Regions from separate parts of the Homo sapiens genome. Here region 2 is linked to region 1. The links come from fine-mapping of genetic effects on gene expression. A gene starts in region 1. The other region holds a variant in brackets. All regions are shown on one strand. Distances are between the middles of the regions. Region 1 holds the start of SLC22A14 (solute carrier family 22 member 14). Region 2 overlaps SLC22A14 (solute carrier family 22 member 14).

Region 1 (12,057 bases):
CCAGGTCTACTTAGCTTGCCCTGGTCTTCCCCCAGGCAGACAGGCATGGGGCTGGTGGGCATCTTCTCACGGATCGGGGGCATCCTCACACCACTTGTGATCCTGCTGGGAGAGTACCACGCTGCCCTCCCCATGCTCATCTACGGCAGCCTCCCCATCGTGGCCGGCCTGCTGTGCACCCTGCTGCCAGAGACGCATGGCCAGGGCCTGAAAGACACCCTCCAGGACCTGGAGCTGGGGCCTCACCCACGGTGAGCTGCTTGCTTGCACTGAAACCACGACTTGGGTCTCACATTGGCCACGCACTCTATATGCCCAGGCCTCCACCTCATCACTCGTCCACTGTTGCCTAGAGGCTAATATGGGGTCCTCCAGAACCACAGACATCTGGCTGGCTTTAGTTCAGATTCCCCTTACTTTGAGGAGGGAGGTGGTGAGGACACTGTCATGGGACCAATTCCTGGGCAGCCAATGACAGCCTTCTGCTCCCTCTAGGTCCCCCAAATCAGTGCCCTCAGAGAAGGAAACAGAGGCCAAGGGAAGAACTTCCAGCCCGGGAGTGGCCTTTGTGAGCAGCACATACTTCTGATTGAGGTCTCTAAGAGCTGGACCATCAGCAGCAGGGAGCTGCCTAAACACCTCCTTGGATATGGCCAGGACCCACAGGGACACAGGGCAAGACCAGCCTTGCTTATGGAGGCAGGACACCACAATCTGGCCCATGGCTGTCACCTCCTGCCGAGTCCAATCCCAGACTGGGAACCACCATCTGAGACAGGACCTCCCGGCCTCCTTCACCTTTCTCATCTCCAGAGCCCTGCCCCCAATACTCTGTCTGGGTTAGGATCTTGGGTATGTCTTGGAATTAACTTGTCCTCTAACAATCTTCATGGGGTATGGCTCTCTTGATCTCCTCAATCTGGAGTCCCCTGCCCTCAAAACACAGTGATGTTCAGAACAGAACACAAGGTAAGCCCTTTCCAATTTGTGGGAACAGGAGGGGAGAGGAAACAAATGTGAAGTTGTGGACTCTACCCAGGCAGGTGGATGAAAATGCTGTGGATAAAAGGAAGGTTATGATTCCTTCTAGCGGATGGACCAGATTCCTCTGGCTAACGTATGGCCCCATAGGTCACTGGGTCATACAGAGAGAAGATTCAGTTCAGCCTAAATCAAAACTTCCACCTTGTGTTCACTTCAAAGATGGCCCAACCCCCGCCCTACACTCAGCTCATGCCTAACCTATGTGTGGCTCAGGGACCAGCTTGGGGAAGGAAAGGAGGTTTGTTCTGCTCCCCGCCTCACCCCGCCTCCTCCTGCTCATGCTCAGCTGCTTCTGGACCTTCCAGGGCCCATGCAGGGTGAGGGAAAGGGTAGAGGTCTTTTCACCGAGCTGCTGCTGGTTGCAGTTCTTTCTGGTGCACATTGGCTAATGCCAGTTGGTGTGTTTTGTCAGGCTTCTGAAAGCTGCCTTTTCCACGGGCCATCTTCTTGGGCTTCTCAGAGATCTTCTCAGGCCTTGGTATTGTTCCTTAGAATGAGCAATATGCTCCCAATGCACTCCCAGCTCCTCTTGGGACCCTTCTCCAGCCCCACCCAGCATTGCTCCTACAACCTGTCCTACAGCTGGCAGCCCCTGACCCAACCAAGATGGCCTTCTTGGCTGGGCGTGGTGGTTCATGCCTGTAATCCCAGCACTTTGGGAGGCTGAGGCGGGCGGATTACCTGAGGTCAGGAATTTGAGACCAGCCTGGCTGGCATGGCAAAACCCTGTCTCTACTAAAAATACAAAAATTAGCCCTATATGGTGGTGCATGCCTGTAATCCCAGCTACTTGGGAGGCTGAGGCAGGAGAATCGCTTGAACCTGGGAGGCGGAGTTTGCAGTGAGCCAAGATCGCACCACTGCACTTCAACCTGGGCAACAGAAAGAGACTCTATCTCAAAAAAAAAAAAAAAAAAAAAAGATGGCCTTCTTAGATGGGCGCCCATAAAGAGACCTCAAGCCGGACTGCCTTCCTCAGCACCTCCTTAGCCTGCAAGAACACCATATATCATTGTGTCACCAAATGGTAGATAGAAAAAGAGCTTGCCTGGCCACTGCCCCTGCCTTGCCCCAGCTAACCTCCCACTAGGGAGAAGGTTTCAGTCTCTCTTCTCACAGGCACCCCAGCTTGCTCACCTTCTCCTGCATGGCTGGTTCGGGGTTGGGCGTAGATGCTGGACCAGTTTCCTGTAAACCCAGCATGGAAGTGTTCAGCACCTGTCTTCCAAACACATGGATATTCCTCACTCACGATTCTCAGCTTTGAAGTGCTAGACAAAAGCTCTATTTAGCTTCCTACTGTGTGCCCATTCATGGCATCCTCTTGGGGAATACTAGCAAGTCTTTCTGGGCACAATGTGTCTCTCAGGCTGAAACTGCCAAGGGGTGCGGAAAACCAGATAGAAGTGGGGAAAGGGCCATTTCCCAGCTAAAGGCAGTTTCCTCCTCTAAGATATGGACACTTGCTCCCTTTAAGACGGAATGATTGTCATTCCCAGGAAGAGACCTGAATGGCCAAGACTGGCTAATTTTTGTATTTTTGGTAGAGATGGGGTTTTGCCAAGTTGGCCAGGCTGGTCTCAAACTCCTGAACTCGTGATCCGCCCACCTCGGCCTCCCAAAGTATTGGGATTACAGGCATGAGCCACCATGCCTGGTCCCTGGAGACTTTTTCTTTCCTTTTTGGGGGGATTATGGTTGGTTGGGGAGAAAGATTTTTTTTTTTTTCTGTGTGTATTTAAAAGTGTCCTGTGGTTTGCTCTGATGAATGGGTAAGTGTCCTTTAGCAGTCACTGATGGGAGGTTGGCTGCTGAGGCCTCTGGGACTCTGAAGGAGAAGATATGCAGCTTCACTGGACCCTGGTTGTGTATCTCCTTGATTTTGCTCCTCAAAGGTTACGGCAATGGTGACTATCAGTCCTAAACATTTAGTCCAGGTGTGTGAAAGCGAAACTGTGCCCCAAACAGTTAAAGACACCAATGACTAACAGAAATTCTTGAGTTTGCAGGATGGTAGGTAAGCAAAGAAACAACTTGCTGAGATGCTGAAAGTCCCTCCACTTGTAAGACAACAAAGCTGGCTAAAATAGGTTGGAACCAATGTGGCCAACTAGAGTCTGTGCAGTACCTGCTTGCTGACATCACAGCCTGAATTTCCACTGCGTGTTTCATACTCACTCCCCCCGTACCTGCCCATGTGATCTATGAGGTGTCATGAAGAGAACTGCGCATGCTGGAGGACTTTCCAGGCCTCCTCTTTCCTTCCACTAATCACCTGCTAATCTCAGAATCCCGACACCTTTTCTAATAAAAACACTGCCTTAGCACCAGCCCAGGGAGACAGATTCAAGCTGGACTCCTGTCTCCGTGTCGGCCGGCCTATAATTACAAGCTTTTCTTTTCTCAAAAACCCGGTGTCATCATATTGGCTTCTAGCACATTGAACAGCAAGCCCCTTTCTGCCTAGAAACAATCTGACCCTCATATTTACTAGTTTTCTCAACCTGTAACCAAGGGAAACAAAAATGACCTCCTAAATTTTTAACAAAGGCAATCAACATTTGTAGCTGGTATGAATATTTGTTCTGTAAACTCATATCTGCAGGCAACAGAATGTTTCTTTAGCCTATGAGCCTCCATCTTGCTGAGCTGATTGGAAATTCATCTCAGCTGTTATTGGGGCTCTTCTCAACCCAGAGAGTTCTGGGATCTTTTTTTTTTTTTTTGAAAAGGAGTCTCAGTTTGTCACCCAGGCTGGAGTGCAGTGGTGCAATTCTCTGCTCACCGCAACTTCTGCCTCCTGGGTTCAAGCGATTCTCTTGCCTCAGCTTCCCGAGTAACTGGGATTACAGGTGTGCGCCACTGCGCCAGGCTAATTTTTGTATTTTTAGTAGAGACAGGGTTTTGCCATGTTGGCCAGGCTGGTCTTGAACTCCTGACCTCAGGTGATCCGTCTGCCTCAGCCTCCCAAAGTGCTGGGATTACAGGCGTGAGCCACCATGCCCAGCCGAGTTCTGGGATCTTATGTAACCAAAACAAACCAAAACAAAGGGGTGCTCCCACCCTGCTCTTCAGTCTCACTGATGGCTTCTGGGTGCTCACTGTGCTGTCTGCTTGGTCCCTTTGACCCCCAGAGTGCTGCTGCTCAAGAGTGGGGAACTCTAGGGGGGATGAGGGGCCTAGGACCAACCACTGAGGTGACCTGCAGACACCCCGAGGGAGGTCTGGTGAAAGAGGAAGGATCTGATGCCCCAGATACCAATAAGATTGCAGTGCCCTGCCCCCAAACAAGTGAAGATTGAGCCATAGGAAACTGCAAAAGAGCTGTAAGTAGGTTTCCCTGTGATCAATACTTCATTTTTTTTCAAATATATGAAATTCTTTTAATTTTTTTTTGTGTCTTAAGTGTCTGTGTTAGTCCATTTTCTGTTGCTTATAACAGACTGCTTGAAACTGAGTTATTTATAAAGAAAAGAAATTTATTTCTTACAGTTCTGGAGGCTGGGAAGTCCAAGGTTTAGGGAATACATCTGGTAAGGGCCTTCTTGCTGTTGGGAACTCTGCAGTCTCCCAAGGGGGCACAGGTGAGGGAACCGAGCAAGCTAGCTTGTCTTTCTTCCTCTTGTTATAAAGTCACCAGTCCCATTCTCATAACTCATTAACCCATTAATCTACTAATCCATGATTGGTGATTCATGGATTAACAGATTACACTCATGACCCAATTACATCTTAAAGGCCCCATCACGCTACCACACTGGAGATGAAGTTTCAACATGAGTTTTGGAGAGGACAAATATTAAGCCATAGCAATGCTCTAATTTTGTTGAGGTCCTAAGTACATGCTGTACTGGTACAAGGATGGTCTGCCTTGTACTAGGCCCTGTGCTGGTTTTCCTGTCCTGCCACTTTGGCCTCCCTTCCCCCAAGCATGAAGCTTGAAGCCCTGTTCCTGCAATCTGGCAGAGGAGGCTTCTAGCTTATGGGGGAGATGGGTCAGACCCCGGCAGCTCTGACCAAGGCTGGTTGGCAGGGGAGTGTCACGGAGAGACAGAGCAGAAGTGAGTGGGGTAGGGCCAAGCCATTTCCAGCTGTGGGCTCAGGAAGGCTTGAAGGATAGTTGATAAATGAGTGATATCTGGAAGGACAGGAGAATTTCCGAGAGTGGAGGTGGAGCCCTCGTGTGGAGGAAACAGCCTGCACAAAGACAGGGGCAGGGGGGTTCGTGTGGCAGTTTTCCTGACCTGCCTTGCCCCTGGAGGCTACAGCCAGTTGTGTCCCTGGAGTAGAATGCTGACCCTCACCATTCCCAGCTCACCCCAAGGACCTCCCCACCCCATTGTGACACTACTTCCTGGACACCAGTGGAGCTCAAAGGTTCTGCTTCCAAGGGTCTGGCTGGGCCTGGATTGTGGTCAGGTGGGCCCTGGCTTTGGCTTGCGGTCCTGCCTACAGGGAGGCAGGGCCGGGAGGGTGTGGAGAGTAGAAATTATGATGACCCCTGGCAATTTTGCGGCCGCGTTCTCAGCACAGGTGTGGACAGGAGCCTGCCTGGGCCTGTTTGGCTGTGGGGAATCTGTGGAAGGAGCGGGCTGCCCTCCCAGAAAGCGTGAGTTCTCAGGTGTGGCGTCTGGCCATCTCCTGCGGCAGGTGGAGTGCTCCTCCTGGCTATGCTTCTCCCAGGCCTCAGTTACCTCTTTGGCACATTGAGAGCCAATTGCCTGGGGCCTGTCCACCTGGCAGAGGACCTTTGGGATGAGTAGAGGGAGTGAGTGCTCCAGGGTATTGGGGTATCAGGTGGTGCTGGGGGATGCTGAAGCGGTCCCTGCAGAGGGAGGCTGGTACAGATGGCTCTGGTCCAGAAGCCACATCTCTGAGAGGACAGCGGAGGCTCTCCCTCCCTGGAAAGTCTCCTTTATCCACCTCCACCCTCTCCAGCCTTACACACATACATCCTGTATTGGTTTCCTATTGCTGCTATAACAAATGCCCACACTTAGTGGCTTGAAACAGCAGAGACTTATTACCTTATGGTTTTGGAGGTCAGAAGAACAAATGGGCCTCAGCAGGCTAAGATCAAGGTCTCAGAAGGATTGCCTTCCTTTCTGGAGGCTCTAGGGCAGAGCTCATTTCCTTCCTTGCCTTTTCCAGCTTCTAGAGCCTCCTGCATTCCTTGGCTCTGGGACCCCTTGCATCTTCAAAGCCACCGACGGCTGCCCAAATCTTTATCACGCTGCATTTCTTTGGGTCTTATGCATTTAAGGATCCTGGGATTAATGGGACCTACCTGACAATCCAGGATAATCTATTTTAAAGTCAGCTAAGTAGTAACCTTAACTTCATCTGTAACTTTAACCCCCCTTGCCATGTAAGGAAACATATTTACGAGTTCTGAGGATTAGGCATAGATCTCTCCGGGGGGCGCTTATGCAGCCTCCCCCACCTCCCAGCACACACACATCTAAGCATGCTCTCCCTCTGTGTTCCCTGCCTCTTATGCACCTCCAAATTCTGCTGAGATAAGGGATCCCGAACTCAGGGCCAGGCAGGAGGCAAAGACAAGTGAAATGGGGAAATGGTGCTGGGCTCTGCTGGGCCTCCTGCATGCACACATCAGAAGTAGCAGGAGCCGGGTGCAGTGGCTCACGCCTGTAATCCCAGCACTTTGGGAGGCCGAGGCGGGAAGATCACTTGAGGTCAGGAGTTCGAGACCAGCCTGGCCAACATGGTGAAACCCCATCTCTACTAAAAATACAAAAATTAGCCAGGCGTGGTGGCTTGCACCTGTAGTACCAGCTACTCGGGAGGCTGAGCCAGTAGAATCACTTGAACCCAGGAAGCAGAGGGTGCAGTAAGCCGAGATCACACCACTACATTCCAGCCTGGGTGACAGACCGAGATTCTGTCTCACAAACAAACAACAACAACAACAATAATAACAAAAAACAGAGCAGACTCTCAGTCTAAAGGAGGGGCCCCTGCTCAGATTTGCTAATTGTTGCCAGATGGGAATGCTGTCCCATTGGCCAAACTTCAAAAAGAAAATGCTGCATTTATGTGAAATCAACTTTTGGCAGTTAAATCACATTCCAAGACACAGTGAGGCACCAAATGGGCTAGCCAAGGGAAATGTGTCTGCAGGCTGGATTTGTCCCGTAGACGATGAGCTGGAGACCTCTTCCCTGGATTATGGAACAGCAGTCGCAGTCTGAGAAGGAGGCATCCCCCTCGTGTGACTGGTAGAAAACTAGGGGCCCAAGAGGGAAAGGGGACTCCTCCTCAAGCAGACAGCTCTTCTCCATCCCTGTCCGCCCTGTCCGATAGTAGAGCGAGGGGCTCATGGTGGCTTCTGAAAGTGGCCCTAGCCTTGGCTAGGGCTAGTGGGGCAGCTTGGTGACATGCCCAGGTGAGGACCCCATGGGGGCTGGGGGCCAGGCTGGGTCACTCCTCCAGGGCCGGCCTAAGAGGGATAGATTTGGCGAATGCAGCTCGGCCTCCCCACAGATCCCTGCCCTCTAGGCCCACCACAGTGCCATCCCCAGCCAGGCAAGGGCCCCTGGTGTCCCAGCCAAGGCCCGTCCTCTAAAGAATTCTCTGAAGAAACTTTCCCAGAATGCTGGGAATGTGCAGGGATCTTGGCAGAAATGAGAGGAAGAACTTAGAAAGGAGGCCTCCGCTAATCATTACAATATGCCTCAGTGTCTTCTGCAGTGCTTAGGGAGCAAGTTCCCGTGAGACGAAGGACCAGAGCGTAGGAAATGTGAGAATACATGGAAGAATGTCCCCTTCAAGGACACCTGGCCTGACAATGTGGGTGATCAGCCTCCCACAAAATTAAAAAAAAAAAATCACAAGAACAGAGACAAGGGTTCTCATCATACTACGAAATGACCGAAAAGCAATACAAATTATAAGACCCAATGCTGCTGGTGGGACTGTAAGGAAATGGACACCTCGTGAACTGTTGTGGACTCTGAAATGGGTTGCTCTTTCCGGAGGACATTACGAGCCTATGTTATAAGAGCCATATAAACAATCCTACTTCTTGGACCTTAGCCCAGGGAAGAAAGACAGCCTTCTGCACCATAATGTGTACAGAAAAGTTGTCTGGGGTAGTGAGGAAGCAGTGAGAAACAGCCTTGGTGCCCAGTAGCTACCATGAAGTAAACAGCACCTTAACAAAGATTCCGTAGCCATTAACATGATCAATGTGAAGATGAGTTTTGGCTGTGGAAAATACTAAGAGCAAGTAGTAGCAGGCAGAAGTTCACTACACTAAACAGGGGATACCCCCACCACAGTGGGGGACTGCTGCCTTTATCAGTCTCCAGCAGAGGGGAGGGGGCCCTGCAGGAAGAGCAGGAGTGGATGTTTCAGGAGAGGGTCCTTGGGCACAATATTTTTTCAAAATAAAAACAGACACGTGTGAATCCATCACCCACCCAAAGCACCAGAACATTTCTAATGATTTCAGTCCACCTCTTCCTTGACATCATTCCTCTGTCTCCCCTCAGAGATGGTTTCCTGAATTTCATCCTTGCTGTTAAAAAAAATCTATAGTTTTATTGCATGACATACTGAAATTATTTCTTTAGTCTTGCTTGTTTCCAAACTTTATAAAAAGAGCATCAGTTTTCTGAGGCTTACTTTTTTCACTGAACATCCTGTTTTTGAGACTCATACAGGTTGATGGATGGAGCTGAAGCTTCTTCATTTTCATTGCTATATTGTATTCCACTATATAAATCTACTACAATTTAGGCATTCTTTCATTGATGTGCATTTGGGCTCTTTTTTCACAGTTGAAAAGTGTCATGAACATTTTGGTACTTATTTCCTGGATCATATGTACAAATGGCTCCCTAGAGTATATACCTGGGGGTAGCATTGCTGGGTCATAAGGTATACAGGTATTCAACTTTATAAGACAATGCCAAATTGTTTTCCAAAGTGGGTCTATGAATAATTCTGCCAGGAATGTATGCAAGATAGTTTTCTCCACCACTTGGTGTTATCAAACTTCTCAATTTGGCCAGACATGATGGCTCACACCTGTAATCCCAGCACTGTGGGAGGCCGAGGTGGGCAGATCACCTGAGGTTGGGAGTTTAAGACCAGCCTGACCAACATGGAGAAAACCCGTCCTACCCAGTCTCTACTAAAAATACAAAATTAGCCGGGTGTGGTGGTGCGCGCCTGTAATCCCAGCTACTTGGGAGGCTGAGGCAGGAGAATTGCTTGAACCCAGGGGGTGAAGGTTGCGGTGAGCTGAGATTGTGCCATTGCACTCCAGCCCAGGCAACAAGAGCAAAACTGTCTCAAAAAACAAAAAACTTCTAAAGTTTTGTCAATCAAATGAGTATAAATATCCTACCATGGTCTTGATTTGCATTTCCCTCATTATTAAAGAGGTTGAGCATCTTCACATGTTTGTAGGCCACACGAGTTTCCTCTTCGTAAAATACCTGTTCAGGTCTTTGGCCCATTTTTCTTTTCTTTTCTTTTTTTTTTTTTTAGACAGAGTCGCTCTGTCACCCAGGCTGGAGTGCAGTGGCACCACCTCAGCTCACTGCAACCTCTGCCTCCTTCAAGCAGTTCTCCTGCCTCGGCCTCCCGAGTAACTGGGATTACAGACGTGTGCCACCACGCCTGGCTAATTTTTGTATTTTTAGTAGAGACTGGGTTTCACCATGTTGGCCAGTCTGGTGTCGAACTCCTGACCTCAGGTGATTCCACCCACCTCGACCTCCCAAAGTGCTGGGATTACAGGCGTGAGCCACCGTGCCTGGCCCTGATTTGTGTGGGTTTTTTTTTTGTTTGTTTGTTTTTGAGATGGAGTCTTGCTCTGTTGCCCAGGTGGGAGTGCAGTGGCCAGATCTCAGCTCACTGCAGCCTCTGCCTCCTGGGTTCAGGTGATTCTCCTACCACAGCCTCCCGAGTAGCTGGGATTACAGGTGTGCACCATCATGCCTGGCTAATTTTTGTATTTTTTTTTTACTGGAGACCGGGTTTCACCACATTGGCCAGGCTGGTCTTGAACTCCTGACCTCAGGTGATCCACCCACCTTGGCCTCCCAAAGTACTGGGATTACAGGTGTGACCCACTGTGCTTGGCTTGATTTGTGGTTCTGTACATACTCTTTACATAGTCTTGATCCTAGTCCTTTTTCAGATATAGGTGTGTGTGTGCGTGTGTGTGTGTGTGCAAATATCTCCTTCCAGTTGTGTCCAGTTTTTTTCCACTTTAAGATTTTCATTTTTAAGTTTTGTCTGCTTAAAACTGCTATATTGCTAAATTTGGCAAGTTTAATATTGCTATATTGTATTTCACTGTATAAATATACTACAATTTACACATTCTTATATACCTGTAGTCAAATTTATAAATTTAAAATTTTGTGGTTAGCACAAAACAGCATAGTTTTTGTGTCTTGATTAGGAAATCCTTCCTCACCTGAAAGTCAGAAATAGATTCCCTTATATTTTCTATTAAAAGTGTTGTTCTTGAAATTTAAGGCCTTAATAGGGCTGGAATTTTTGTTTATGATATGATGAATCTAATTTTAATTTATTTTTCCATTTACTGACCTATCATGCCACTCCCCTCTCAGATATCAAAACTTTAAATTTGCATGGATATATTTCTGGGCTTTCTATTAGCTATTTCTATGTTGGCATATTCTCATTAATTCATATAACTTTATAATAAAGTTTGATAATTTGCAGGGCACATCATTCTTATTATTCTTCAGAATTTTCTTAGGTATTTATGCCCTTTGTCCTTCAATATACATTTTAGAATCTTCTTGCCAAAAATAATTTTATAAAAAATACCTTTTGGATTTTGACTAGAGTTGTGTTGAATCTACAGATCAATATGGAGAACTGACAACTTTTATTCATGACCATGAGATAGCTCTACATTTACTTTTCTTTCTTCATATATTTCTGTATGTTTTATCATTATTTTACACATAGGTCTTGTGCATATTTTTAAACCATTTTTTAAAATGTAATATATACACAACACAAAATTTAACATCTTAACCATTGTTAAGTGCACAGTTCAGTGGCATTAAGTAATTCACATCATTGTGCAACCCTCACTACCATCCATCTCCGGAACGATTTCATTTTCCCAAGCTGAAATTCTGTACCTACTACATAATAACTCCCCTTTTCCTCCTCCCTCAGTCCCTGGTAACCACCATTCTACTTTCTGTGTCTATGAATTTGACTAGGTACCTCATATAAGTGTAATCATACATGTCCTTTTGTGATTTGGTATTTCACTTAGCAGAATGTTTTCAAGGTTCATTCATACTGTAACATGTATTATAATTTTATTCATTTTTAAGGCTGATCTATATTCCATTGTATGTATACACCACACTTTCTTTATCCATTCATCCATCCATGGACATTTGTGTTGCTTCCACCTTTTGTCTATTGTGAACAATGCTGCTGTGAACATGGGTGTACAAATCTGTTTGAGCTCCTGCTTTCAATTCTTTTGTGTATGTACCCAGAATTAGATTGTTGGATCAAATGGTACTCCTATTTTTAATTTTTTTAGGGACCATCATACTGTTTTCCATGGTGGCTACACCCTTTTACATTCCAATACAAAAGGGTTCGAATTTCTCCACATCCTCACCAATATTTGTTTCCTTTTCTTTTAAAAAATTAATAATTGTCATCCTAATGGGTGTCTTGTACATATTTTGTTAGGTTGTTTCTAATCTATATTTCAATATTATAAATGGTATCTTTTAAAGTTTCCCATTTAAAAAAATCATGTTAGTTTGAAATGATTAAAAAAATTAATAATAGTCATCCTAATGGGTGTCTTGTATGTATTTTGTTAGATTGTTCCTAATCTATATTTCAATATTAAAAATGGTATCTTTTAAAGTTTCCCGTTTTTAAAAATCGTCTTAGTTTGAAATGATTTTAGGGTTTTAACAAAAGTTGTGAGACTGGGCACAGTGGCTCATACCAGTAATCCCAGAA
Region 2 (12,057 bases), 30 kb after region 1:
CTCAGAACTCACAAAAAATAGGGCTCGGGGAAAGAAGCAGCTTTGATCAGGCATCTCTTACGGGGCTTCCCAACCCGAGCTGCAATCTAGGCCCTTTACAACACAGACCGCCCTAGCATGAATCTGCAGGTTGGGCCTAGCACCTGCCTTTGGGAAAGGGTCTGCACTGATTCCTGCCTTTGCTCAGCTACCCCCTACCCCACACACACATCTTGGCCTATGCCTCTGGTCACTCTCTCCAGGCCCAGCTCTCAGGGTGGAGCAGGTGCCAGAGGGGTTGCAGAGGTAACAGAGCAGAGGCAACAGCTGAGGCACGCTGCACACTGTTAACTGCCCCTACCCCAGGTCCCCTTGGCCTATAGGTCCCACGCTGGGATGAGTCTCAGTCTCTGGACCCAAAGGTGGGCACCCGTGGCCAATCTCTGTGTCTGACCCACAGTTTGACTTGGTATGTGGCATGGAGACGAAGAAGGACACTGCACAGATCATGTTCATGGCAGGGCTCCCGATAGGCTCTCTCATCTTCAGGCTCATAACTGACAAGTGAGTCCCCGGGAGTTTCTGCTGGTCCCCGAGCCATCCCAACTCCTCCTCATGGGCATTCAGGGTTGGAGTGTGTCAGGCTGAGGGAGGTGAGGGTAGGGGTTCTCCAGGGACCCATGGATGGCTCAGGGCCTGGCCCAGGTGTATCCGGCTGGGGCCAGCCCGGGAGATCCCGGCACTTGGTGCAGCCTCCCTTTGACACCTGTAGGATGGGCCGCTACCCTGCCATCCTGCTGTCACTGCTGGGGCTGATCATCTTCGGCTTTGGGACAGCCTTCATGAACAGCTTTCACCTGTATTTGTTCTTTCGCTTTGGCATCTCGCAGTCAGTGGTGGGCTACGCCATCAGCAGCATTTCTTTGGGTGAGACTGGGCCTCAATGGGGCAGGGCAGGGTGGCACAGGGGCATGGCGGCATAGGCGGGTGACAAGGGGACATAGTGGCAGGGGGCGTGGCGGCATAGGCAGATGGCAAGGGGGCGTGGTGTAGCTGTAAGAGGGCATGGCGGGGGTGTGGCAGCGTGGGCATCTGCTGGGATCCCACAGGACACAGAGTCAGGGGCCTAATTGGACAGGCAGAAGTGGAAGGGATCTCCGTTCCTGGCTGCCTGGAGATGTCAGAGAATCAGTGCCCTGACTGCCCTTCCACCTTCATCCTCCTTCCTAACTCCCTCATACACCACACCTTCCACCGCATACTCTTTGCATACCCCCAAGCCCCATGGGTTACATTTACTGAGCCCTTAAGAAAGGCCAGGCAAAAGAAAAAACAACAAAAAACAGAAGAAGAAGGAGGAGGAGGAGGAAAGAAGAAGAAAGAAGGAGGAGGAGGAGGAGGAAAGAAAAAGAAAGAAGGAGGAAGAGGAGGAGGTGGTGGTGGCAGAGGAGGAGGAGGAGAAGAAGAAGAAGAAGGAGAAGGAGAAGAAAAAGCCAGGCAGCTGCTGAGCCCTTTATATGCATTGTCTCATTTCCTCCTGATGCAGCTGTCTTCAGCAGGCACTATTCTATTACTCCTTCAGCTGAGGAGGACTCTTTAGCCTCAGAGAAGTTAACCAACTTGCACAGGGCCACACGGCAACTAAGTGAAAAAGCTGGGACTTCAACCCAGGCCTATGAGACACTAAAGCACCCAGTGCAGCCTTATAGCTGCAGCTGCCTAGTTGCTCGGGGTTTCCTGGCAGGAGAACCTCTTCTCATTGGGAGCCTTAGGCCTAGGTGGCCAAAGCACGAATACACTCAGAGCAAAAACAAGGACAATGATTCCTTGCCTGACCATGTGTCAGGCCACGTGTCTGGTATTGCGTCTTTTCTATAAGAGGCACGTGGTCAGACAGGGGATGTGCAGAGGGAGCAGCCAGGTGGAGCGGGATGGAAGCTGTGTATATGATTAGGAGATAAGGGTGTCCCCTGGCGGGAACAGAGGCACTCTACCGGGCTCTGAGGGGCTGTCTCTGGACCCAGTGCAGAGACGAGCAGAAGAAGCTTTGCCTGATCTCAACTGTCCAGAGCAGGTGGGGACACCCAGCAAGGCTGGATGCAAGGGCAGCCCTGGGGACCCTGACGTAACCATGGTTTTGTCCTCTTGGCCTCTGCACAGCCACTGAGTGGTTAGTGGGTGAGCACCGGGCCCATGCCATTATCCTGGGACACTGCTTTTTCGCTGTTGGGGCCGTGTTGCTGACAGGGATCGCCTACAGTCTTCCCCACTGGCAGCTGCTGTTTCTGGTGGGTGGGATACTTGTGATCCCCTTCATCTCCTATATCTGGTGAGCAAGCGAGTACCGGGCATGTACAGGGCTGGGTCTGATGGGCTGGATGTCGATGAGTATGGAGGGTCCTTGAAGCTGTGGGAATGGGTGGGATTTCCCCTGGGAGAAAGTGCATGTGGATGGGATGAGATAGGAAGGCACCAAGGGCAGAGCCTCTGAACCTCAGCATTAACCTCCTCCCCGACCCAGAGAAGACCCTCAAAGAGATGTTAGAGAGGTGGTCAGAAAACCAGGAGGAAGAGTGTTGAAGGCCAAGGGGTTAAGGCCAAGGGAAGGGTCAGTGTTGAAGGTAAGAGGGGTGATGCTGGGAAAGGGTCTGCCAGCCTTGGTGACCTTCTTGAGGTGGCTTCACTGCAGTGGCAGAGGGTTGAGGAGTGACTAGGAGCAGAAGAAATTCAGCCAGGAGATGACTTTCTTAGAAAGAGGGAGAAAGGGATGATTTATATGGGCAACTAAGACAGAGTCAGGGAAGAGTATCAGATGTTTTGAGTGTAGGGGAGTCACAGACAGGAACCTAAGAGATTAAAGCTGGGAGAGGACAACTGATGGGGCAAAACTCGGAGGAATAAGGGTTGAGAACAAAAGTGAGATGCCAAAAGAAAGAAGGTTAACCTTGGGCAGGTGGGAAAAGAGAGGGACAAAACAGAAGGCAGAGAGGGAGGTGAGAAGAAGCTGAAGGAACCCACGTGTGAAGGGTTAGGCAGTTCTGCATGAAGCAATGATCATATTTAATCTTGAAATTATTACATTTAATCTTGACCCCTCTAGAAGAAGTATGCTATTCCCATGTCATGGGAGGTGGGGAGGAGGGAGAACTGAGGCTTCAGAGGGTGGAAATAACTTGTCTAACAGCACACAGCTAGAAAGTGGGGCACCTGGGATTTGAACTCAGGGGCTGTCTCCAAAGCCTCTGCATTTTAACTGTACCATATGTAGTAAGAATGATAAAAGATGGGGTTAACAGCATGGGGGCTGGGCGCAGTGGCTCATGCCTGTAATCCCAACACTTTGGGAGGCTGGGGTGGGAGGAGCGCTTGAGGCTAGGAGTTTGGGACCAGCCTGGGCAACATCGCAAGACCCTGCCTCTACACAAAATTTTAAAGTTAGCCAGGCATGGTGGCACACACTTGTAGTCCCAGCTACTTGGGAGGCTGAGGTGGGAGGATCACTTGAGCCCAGGAGATCATGGCTGCAGTGAGTTATGATTGTATTACTGCACTCCAGCCTGGGCAAAAGAGTGAGATCCTGTTTAAAAAAAATTTCAGTCCAGTTCAATTAAAAACTTTAATCTTACATCAGATCCACAGCTTTTTCCTGGCCCCTCGCTCAGGATAGTGGCCAAGGGGGATGAGGTCTGTTCTGACCTATTGTTCTTCCTCCTGTCTCCTTGTTCTGATTTTCCAGGTTCTAGGCATGGGATAGGGACATCAGATAAAATAGACCAAAGACTGACATGGCAGGGGCTATTATAGTCTCTCAGGGTCCTCTGTAGGGTAGATATTCAAATACCATCACTCTCAGGTCCATTCGTGGGTCTTCTGAGCATTGGAATTTCCTAATGCTCCCAGTGCTCTGTTTGTGACCTCCCTCAGCTCCTGTCCCTGGCAGTTCACCCCATAACCTCTTTCTGTAGGGGTCTCCTCATCCTAGCACATGGGGTGCCTTTAAGACAGCAGGGTCCACTTGGCCAAAAAACCCCACTGTTCCCCAGCCTCCACCCTGTTGTGGTGGGCTGCTCCAATCAACCTCCTGCCTTCATTATACCCAGATGAGAGATGGGCATCATTCTCCGGGTTTATGTAGGCCCTCAAACTCCAGGTGGCACATATTAACTCTCCTATAATCTCTCTCACTGTCTGGAATACCAGGACAAGCCCCCATGTTTCTGAATTAGCAAGTTCCAGCCAGAGTGGGATGGCAGATGTCCTTTTTCAAAGGCAGTCCCCGCATCTATCTAAGGAGTTCTCTTGAACTCCCCTTTGCCTAGCTCGAGTAGATGAGAGTTGTATGGGGAGTGAGGAGGAGAGATTCAAGACCCTGTCACTTCCATGAACTGGATTCCCAGCCTCTATTGGTAGGCTGTTAGCAGTGAGCACCAATGTACTATGGGTGCTGAAGGTCCCTCTTTTGACCTAGTTGTGTCCCCTAGGCTTTGGCAGTCTGGGCCTGTGATGGAAGGGGCAGTACCAATGATCTCTAATGTATCTTTGGGGTTATTCTTTTAGTGTCCTCAAGGATAGTGCCTGGCTTCCGCTGATTTGTACTGGCCTCCTTATCAAACAGTAGCTTGGCCACATCCTTGGTGTTCTCTCCCAAACACACTTTGTTATTCATGGAAAATGAATAAACAGCATGGCCAACATGAGCATTTGACAAATCTTTAAGTTCTGCTTCCCTTTTAATTATAAATTCTAATTTGTTTCTCTCTTCTCACATTTTACTATAAGTAGTCAAGAGAAGCCATACCACACCCTCAACACTTTGCTTAGGGACTTCTTCTGCCAAATGTCCTATTTCATCACTTACAAGTTCCTTCTTTCACAAACACTAAGGCATGAATACAGTTCAGCCAAGCTCTTTGCCATTTTGTAGCAAGGATTGCCATTTCTCCAGTTTCTAATAGTTCCTCATTTGCATCTGAGACCTCATCAGAATGTCTTTATTGTCCATATTTACGTCAACATTCTGTTCATGACCTCTTCAATGCATTTGTTACATTTCTCCCATTGTGTCCTCCCTCCCATTCTCTTTGTCCCTGAGAGTTGGTATCCTTTTCTTATTCCTGTTTTTTCAGTGGACATGAGGCCAATCCCCCATCTTTTTGAAGAAGTCTCAGTTTAATGGCTTTCTTTAGGAGAGTTCCACAGCCTTAGAGTGGAAAATGATGACTGATTGCTGAACCCTGGTGGGAGAGAGGAGGAGCAGGGCAGGTATAAGGAATGAAGTTGTCTCTAGTGTCTTGAGTGTGTGTTTATGGCAACCAGCCAGAGTCCTGGTCGGGGAGGGAGTGCTGGTATAAGAAATCAGCAGGCACAGTTTTATTAAAAAGTTATACCACCTTAGGGGACTGAGGCTGTACCAGTCCCCAAGTACATAGCTCTGCCTCTGTGTCCTCGGGCAAGCCTTTTACTCCTTGAGCCTGGGAGTAAAATGGGGATAATCATACTAGGTCCAGGTTTGGATGAGGATTAAACAAGACTATATATACAAGGGCACCAAGCACCATTTTTCACACATACGTGCTTTTTATGCCAATCTGTGTGGATTCTGACAGCCTGAGAGGATGGGAAAAAACAGAGAGGAGTTATTCTGAAGTCAAAGGCAATAGAGATGTGGCGGGGGAGAGATGGGACAGAGTAGAGACCTTCACTCACCCCTCCATTCACCCAGGCAGAGTGCTGGGCACTGGGGTCAGACCCAGGGTCCTGCCCCCTCACACTCCTCAGGCTGTTGGGGAGACAGATAGGGAACAGGAGAAATCCCAACTAAGGGCATGGGGGCTCTACAGGAGGCTGTGGGCATGGAGGTCGGAGCCCTCAGCATGCCTGAGCAGATAGGGGTGGCCCCCTAGATAGAAAAGGAGAGAGCTCTCAGTGATTACTGAGGGCAAATCAAGGAGACTGGAGACAGAGGCAGCCGGTGGTCAGGGTGTTACCTAGCAGCAGTGGAGGCCATGTGAGGCTTAGACAGGGGAAGGGCTGACCACCAGGGAGGAGCAGAGGGCAGCTCGAGGTCAGTGGTGGCCTTCAAGGCCCTGACATCTGAATCACCTCATGCTGGCACAGGATGGCCACAGCTGAGGCCACGAGAGGGCCAGCAGGGGGTCTCTGGGCATCATAGAACGGTGAGATAAGAGAGGGGCTGGCCACGCAGGATTCTCCCGGAGTCCCCGCGGTGGCTGATGATGAAAGGGAAGGTGAAGGAGGCCAAGCAGGTGCTGTGCTACGCCGCAAGTGTGAACAAGAAGACCATTCCTTCAAATCTGCTGGACGAGGTAAAGGGCTTCTGGCCAGGAGTGGGGCCGGAGCAGTGGGCTGTGGAAGGGCCCCTTCCCTCCTCATCCTTTCAGGTGGGACATTGGTCCAGAGGGTGCCCCCAGTCCACTGCTTAAGGACAATGGTGACAGCAAAATTGAACCCTGCCAGGGAAGGCCAGAAGCCAGCTGGCACTTTCAGGGACAGGCAGGCCTTGTGGGTGCTGTGGGGCTGGGGAGCAAGCTGGGGTCTTGGCCCTGCCTCTGACTGGTCCTGCTTGTTCTGTAGCTGCAGCTGCCCAGAAAGAAGGTGACTCGGGCCTCTGTCCTGGACTTCTGTAAGAATAGGCAGCTCTGCAAGGTGACCTTGGTGATGAGCTGTGTGTGGTGAGTATCCAGGGCTCGCTGGCAGGGACTGCGAACAGGTGCGCAGGCTGGAAACTCTAGGGAGAGGATGGGAATGGTCAGGCTGCAGGGGAGGCAGCCCAAGGACACAGATCACAGGTCTCTGTGCTTATTTCTCTCCTCCGTTCCTACCCTGACCCTTGCTGCTCTGCCTCTGTCTTTATTCCTGGCTCCGTGTGTGTGCGCGCGTGTGCACGCGCACTTGCCTCCTGGCTTCATCCAGGTTTACC[G/A]TCAGTTACACCTATTTTACGTTGAGCCTGAGAATGAGAGAGCTGGGCGTGAGCGTCCACTTCAGACACGTGGTCCCCAGCATCATGGAGGTGCCTGCCCGGCTGTGCTGCATCTTTCTCCTCCAGCAGATTGGGAGGAAGTGGAGCCTGGCTGTGACTCTCCTCCAAGCCATCATCTGGTGCTTGCTTCTCCTTTTCCTCCCTGAAGGTACAGCTCATCCTTCCCCTGTGGCCTGCCCACAGCCTTCCTGCTTCCCAAAACCCCTCCCCAGTGCCGCCTGCCACGGCCGGCCACCTAGACACCCTGGGAATCAGCCTTCTGCACCTATAGCCCACCCACCCCACAGAGGCCCCAGCACCTCCAATCCCTGGAGCACTGCTCTTCCTGGGTGGGGTCCCCCAGACAGGGCACCCACACTCTCTCAGAGGCCTGAAAGAGGAGGGTGTACTTTCCAGAGGACAGCAGGCAGCCTTCTTCCACCAGATTCCAATCCACCTTAGAAGTAGGTCTAATGGTTACATGTGAATAAATGATGGCAAAAATATTCCTTCAACTGCTGCCCAGGCCCACCTGTCATCTGTAGCCCCTTTGACTGGGAAATGCCTGTTGTTCCCTGTAGCTTCACCAGGAATAACCTGACCACTGAAAAATTGAGTGTAATATGGGGCTCAGCACTCAGGAACAGCTCTTGCATGGAGGCCCCTCCTTTCCAGAGGGGCTCAGTGCCCCATTCCTGCTGGCTTAGCACTAGAAAAGGAAACAGGAAGGGCTGGTGTTATCTTCAGAATCTCAAAGAGCCCTAAACAGTGGATACACCACAGGTCCTAGAGCTGGAGCGATCTGTGCAGCACATGCACTTAGAATGACTGCCTGCGGAGCCCTTTCACAGTCGCAGCAAGGGCAGGGGAGGCTAGATCCGGCCCTGCCTGGAGGGGCTCCCTCCCTTTCTCCAGGGCTGGAATTGTGTGTGTCTGGATTAGGACCCTTCCACTCCCAGATGCTGGCAGTGTAGATTGGCTAACACAAAATGTGGAAACAAATTCATTATTGAATATTAATTGCCTGGTGGTTTTTAAAAAAGCAGGTCTACACTGAGTCAAGCAGCAATATGTAAACTCAGAAGTGTGAGAGAAACTAGGAATGGACTCCCCGGTAGATAAAACTGGATCTCTGATTTCATCCCAGAGACAAGAAAAGCCAGGACTGGAATGGGAGTAAGGCCGGGGCAGGGTCCTGCAGAGGCTGACAGGCAGGCAGGCAGGGGCTGAAGCCCCCAGCTTCACCAGGTCTGAGGAATGGGCTTTCCCCAGTTTCCCCTTCATTGTGCCTGTCTAGCTGGCCGGAGAACATCCTGGAATGTTTGGGAGCCATCCCAGCCATTCAGGCCCCAGGAACCAAACACCCCCTTGCTCTGACCACCTTGCAGAGCCCCGGTGGTACAGCCCTGAGCAGGGGTCCCAACCCACAGGACACAGGCCTGGCCCTGAGTGGATCCCCAGTGGGGTGAGGAAGCTGCAATTGGGTGAGGAGGTGGAACGAAGACACAGCCTTGGAGGCAGAGAAGGGGGTGTTGGGTGTAGCATGGGAGACAGTGGCCTGAGAGGCCATGGGTGTCCCAGGGGACCTCCCCACCCCTGCTGACTAACTCTGCACTGCAAATGTCCTGCCTTCCAGCCTGGCTGGGCCTCTGACAACCTGCCACTCCTCTGACAGAATGCCTGAGCCTGCTGGCCAGCTGGGCAGGTGGTGGGGAAGGCTGTTCAGATGCCTTCTGGGAGGGGTCAAGGGAGGGCTGATGAGTGGAACTCCTTCACCCACCCCAGGGGAGGATGGCCTCAGACTCAAGTGGCCACGTTGTCCGGCCACAGAGCTGAAATCCATGACGATCTTGGTGCTCATGCTCAGAGAGTTCAGCCTGGCCGCCACTGTCACTGTGTTCTTCCTCTACACCGCTGAGCTCCTCCCCACTGTGCTCAGGTATGGGGTCTGGTGGGCGAGGGGGCCATGGGGACATGCGCAGGGAGTGACAATGACAAGATTAATGCAGCAACTAAGACAAGCATTCACCTGGTGACAAGCACTGTGCTAAACAGTTTACATAAGTGATCTCATTTAAACACCACCAGAAAATCCCCCAAATGCCATCACTAACCCTATTTCAGATGCAAGACCAGACAGATAAAGGCACTCGATTAAGGGCAGACAGAGCAAGCAGCAGAGCTGGGATTTGGCCCCAGGCAGCCTGACTCCAGCCCCTGCCTTGCACTCACTGCCTGGAAAGTGTTTGGGCCACTTGGAGGCTCAGATCCTTCCCTGAGGTTGGCGATGGGAGCACTATCTTCCTGCCTGGCTGGCATCACTGCCTGTGTCCTCTCCCCGCACATCCACATAATGCTGCATGGTTTCTGCCTCTCCCCCTCCTCATCCCCCTTGAAGGAGGCCCAGAAGAAATTATTGCCTACTTGGAATCACACAATGAGGATGGGACAGGGTGGAGACTGGAGAGTGTGGGTTTTCATGTAGCTGCTGGCCCTGCCCAGCCTCTGAACCCGGCAGACCCCTCACAGGAGCTCTCACCTCCACTTTCAGGGCGACAGGTCTGGGGCTGGTGTCTCTGGCCTCGGTGGCTGGAGCCATCTTGTCCCTGACAATCATCAGCCAGACCCCCTCCCTCCTGCCCATCTTTCTCTGCTGCGTCTTAGCCATCGTGGCCTTTTCCCTCTCCTCCCTGCTGCCGGAAACGCGAGATCAGCCCCTCTCCGAGAGCCTGAACCACTCCTCACAGATAAGGTAGGTGTGGGAGCCTCCTGGGCTGTGCCAGCACGGGGCCTGGCTCTGAAGCCTTGGCACAGAGAGCGTGCGGGACATTGTCCATCCCCGCCCCTCTGCCGGAGAGCCTGTGACTCGAAGGCTGCCATGTCCGCAGCAGTCTCTCCGCTCCTCTGGCTGCTGCTGTCTACCTGCTCCCACCCAGCCTCTGCCAGTTCCCATCCTGCTGCCCCTCCTGACCCGGACTGGGCCATGTCGTCTCCTTTCCTTGCCCCTGCCTGCCTGTCTGGATGGGTGCATTGCCTTTGGGCATACCCTCCAGGGGCACTCCTCCCAGAGGCTCCCTCTCCTCCCAGGGACAGGGGACTGGCTTGGAACTGACTCTGAGTACATCTCTTTTCCTGTCTGAACTCCTAGTTCAGTCCTGGTTTTCATAAAAAACCCAGTCTTGATGAAGGACTCTGGCCTCTTGGCCCCAGCAGCCCAGGACCCCATTTGGGAACTGGGTTCCACCCAACACCTCCATGGGCACTTCCGGCCTCTGATCTCCCAGGTGTCCCCTGGAGAAGACTTGTCATGATTGGCAGGACCATTCCTTCTGGGTTTTCGGCCAATGAACACGCTCTCCCTGGACCTGAGGGGACCTGAGCGCCAGTGAGGAGCAGAGGTTGCCCGAGGCCCTAGAGTGTCCTCTGCTCTGTGCCACAGCAGTCACTGCCTCTGGCCTTTCTCTGCCCTCCTCCCTACCATCTTCCCCCTGCCCTCCCTCCCTGCTCTCACTGGAACCACACATGCTAGGCACTGTGCCAGGGCTTGACTGTCAAAGGTCAGAGGTCAGCACTCCCCATCCTTGAGAAAACCATAGCTTATGCGGAGACAGATGATGCAAACAGTTCCTGCTAGAGGACTCTGACAGTGGGATATACAGGATCTGTAGGAACCTAACAAGGGAAGAACGTTAATTTGGGGAGTTGGAGAAAATGTCACAGTGACAACTGAGTAGGGCTTTGAAGGATGGATAGAAACTTGCCCCACTGTAGAGAGAGGAAGTTCAGCGCCGCACGGGAAGAGAGGATAATGGTTATGGGCACAGGTTCCATGTGCCGCAACTTCCTAGTGTGTGCACGGAGAAGTTACCTCATACCTCTGAGACTCAGTTTCTTCATTTGCAAAGTGGAATGAGAACAGAGTAATAACAATAGCTAAGATGAATTGAGCATTTGTTATGTGTTAGACCCTGTTCTACACATGCCTTATCTCGCTCTATCCTCAAAACAATCAAATGCAAGGTAGGTTCTGTCACTATCCCCATTTTACAGGTGAGAACATTGGGGCACAGAGAGGTAAGGCCATGTAGCCCAGCCATCCTCTCCCATGGGTTTTTTTGAGAGGATTAAACCTACATAAAGCAGCTGGCACAGGGTCTGGCATGTGGCAAGTGCTCAGTAAATGCTAGCAGTGAAGATGGTGGACCAACTTCAAAGACAGAAAAGAGAAGGGTCTCGCAAGGGTTGGGAGATGGAGCAGGCCTGATTCTGGAGGCTCCTGGCAAAGCTCGGCTGGGGACCTGCCGGAGTGAGAAAGCCTCACCTCTTGGGAACGCAGGGTTGGGCGCTGCTGAAGGCACAAGCCGCTGCTTTTCTCAGCTTCCAGAAAGATGTGGCCCTGGACTCATCCTCTGATGGCTCTTTCAGGAATAAGGTCAAGGACATGAAGACTAAGGAAACATCATCTGATGATGTCTGAGGAAGCGGCCAAGAATGTCATTCTCAATGCCCAGATCCTGAGATTGGACCCATACCCTGTCTCCAACCCTGCCTTGAAGCAATTCAATAAAGAGGAAGCAAACAGCCAGGCTCCCTGAGGGCCAGGCCCCCAGACCATCTTGGGTTGGAATTGAGTGGCCAAGTATGGGGTCATGGATTCCAGGCCACAAATTCCAGGCCTAGTTCAGTCTGGGGGCAGGGTCAGTCCTTCTCCCAGGCCAGCCCTTGACATTAAAAAAAATGCCCCCTCCTTCTGCAGGAGCTCTGCTGTGATTCATTCCAATAAAGGTACAATGTTGGTCTTGAGATGGCTGGGTCAAAGTTGCCCATGTGTGGAGAATGCAGAGGCCCTGGCCTGGAGGAAGATGGGTTAGACAGACTCCTTAGTGTCTTTGTCTAATCGTTCAGGGACAGTGAGGAGCTCTCTGGATGGGGGCAGGGGAGTGGGGAGGGCAATGTCTATGAGGGCCAGAGGTGAAGTGAGGGCAAGACTGTGCCTGCACACCAACCATACCCACTAGCCCATGCATCCGCCAGCATGGCGAGTTTCCACCTGAAGCACAGGCTGAGGACAGATTTCAAAGCTCCATTTTATGCACTAG

Evidence for each region. PIP is the estimated chance that this variant, and not a neighbour inherited with it, causes the effect.
Region 2: its variant is fine-mapped to the expression of SLC22A14 in cerebral cortex (GTEx, PIP above 0.99). The same link has a PIP of 0.9 or more in prefrontal cortex.

The regions. Positions count from the first base shown.
Region 1 is chr3:38,276,877-38,288,933 of GRCh38, forward strand. It overlaps SLC22A14 (solute carrier family 22 member 14), which reads left to right and starts at 5,418. Exons shown (of 11, transcript NM_001320033.2): 1 at 5,418-5,463. It overlaps SLC22A13 (solute carrier family 22 member 13), which reads left to right. Exons shown (of 10, transcript NM_004256.4): 9 at 36-251; 10 at 496-1,881. The coding sequence ends at 589.
Region 2 is chr3:38,306,815-38,318,871 of GRCh38, forward strand. It overlaps SLC22A14 (solute carrier family 22 member 14), which reads left to right. Exons shown (of 11, transcript NM_001320033.2): 3 at 440-543; 4 at 752-906; 5 at 2,140-2,308; 6 at 6,185-6,305; 7 at 6,574-6,671; 8 at 6,913-7,127; 9 at 8,744-8,897; 10 at 9,510-9,710; 11 at 11,384-11,761. The coding sequence ends at 11,435. Among named protein-coding and RNA genes, the nearest start is that of SLC22A14, 31 kb to the left of the region's middle. RefSeq lists an enhancer at 9,734-10,270. The variant G/A (reference allele first, on the strand shown) is at 6,920.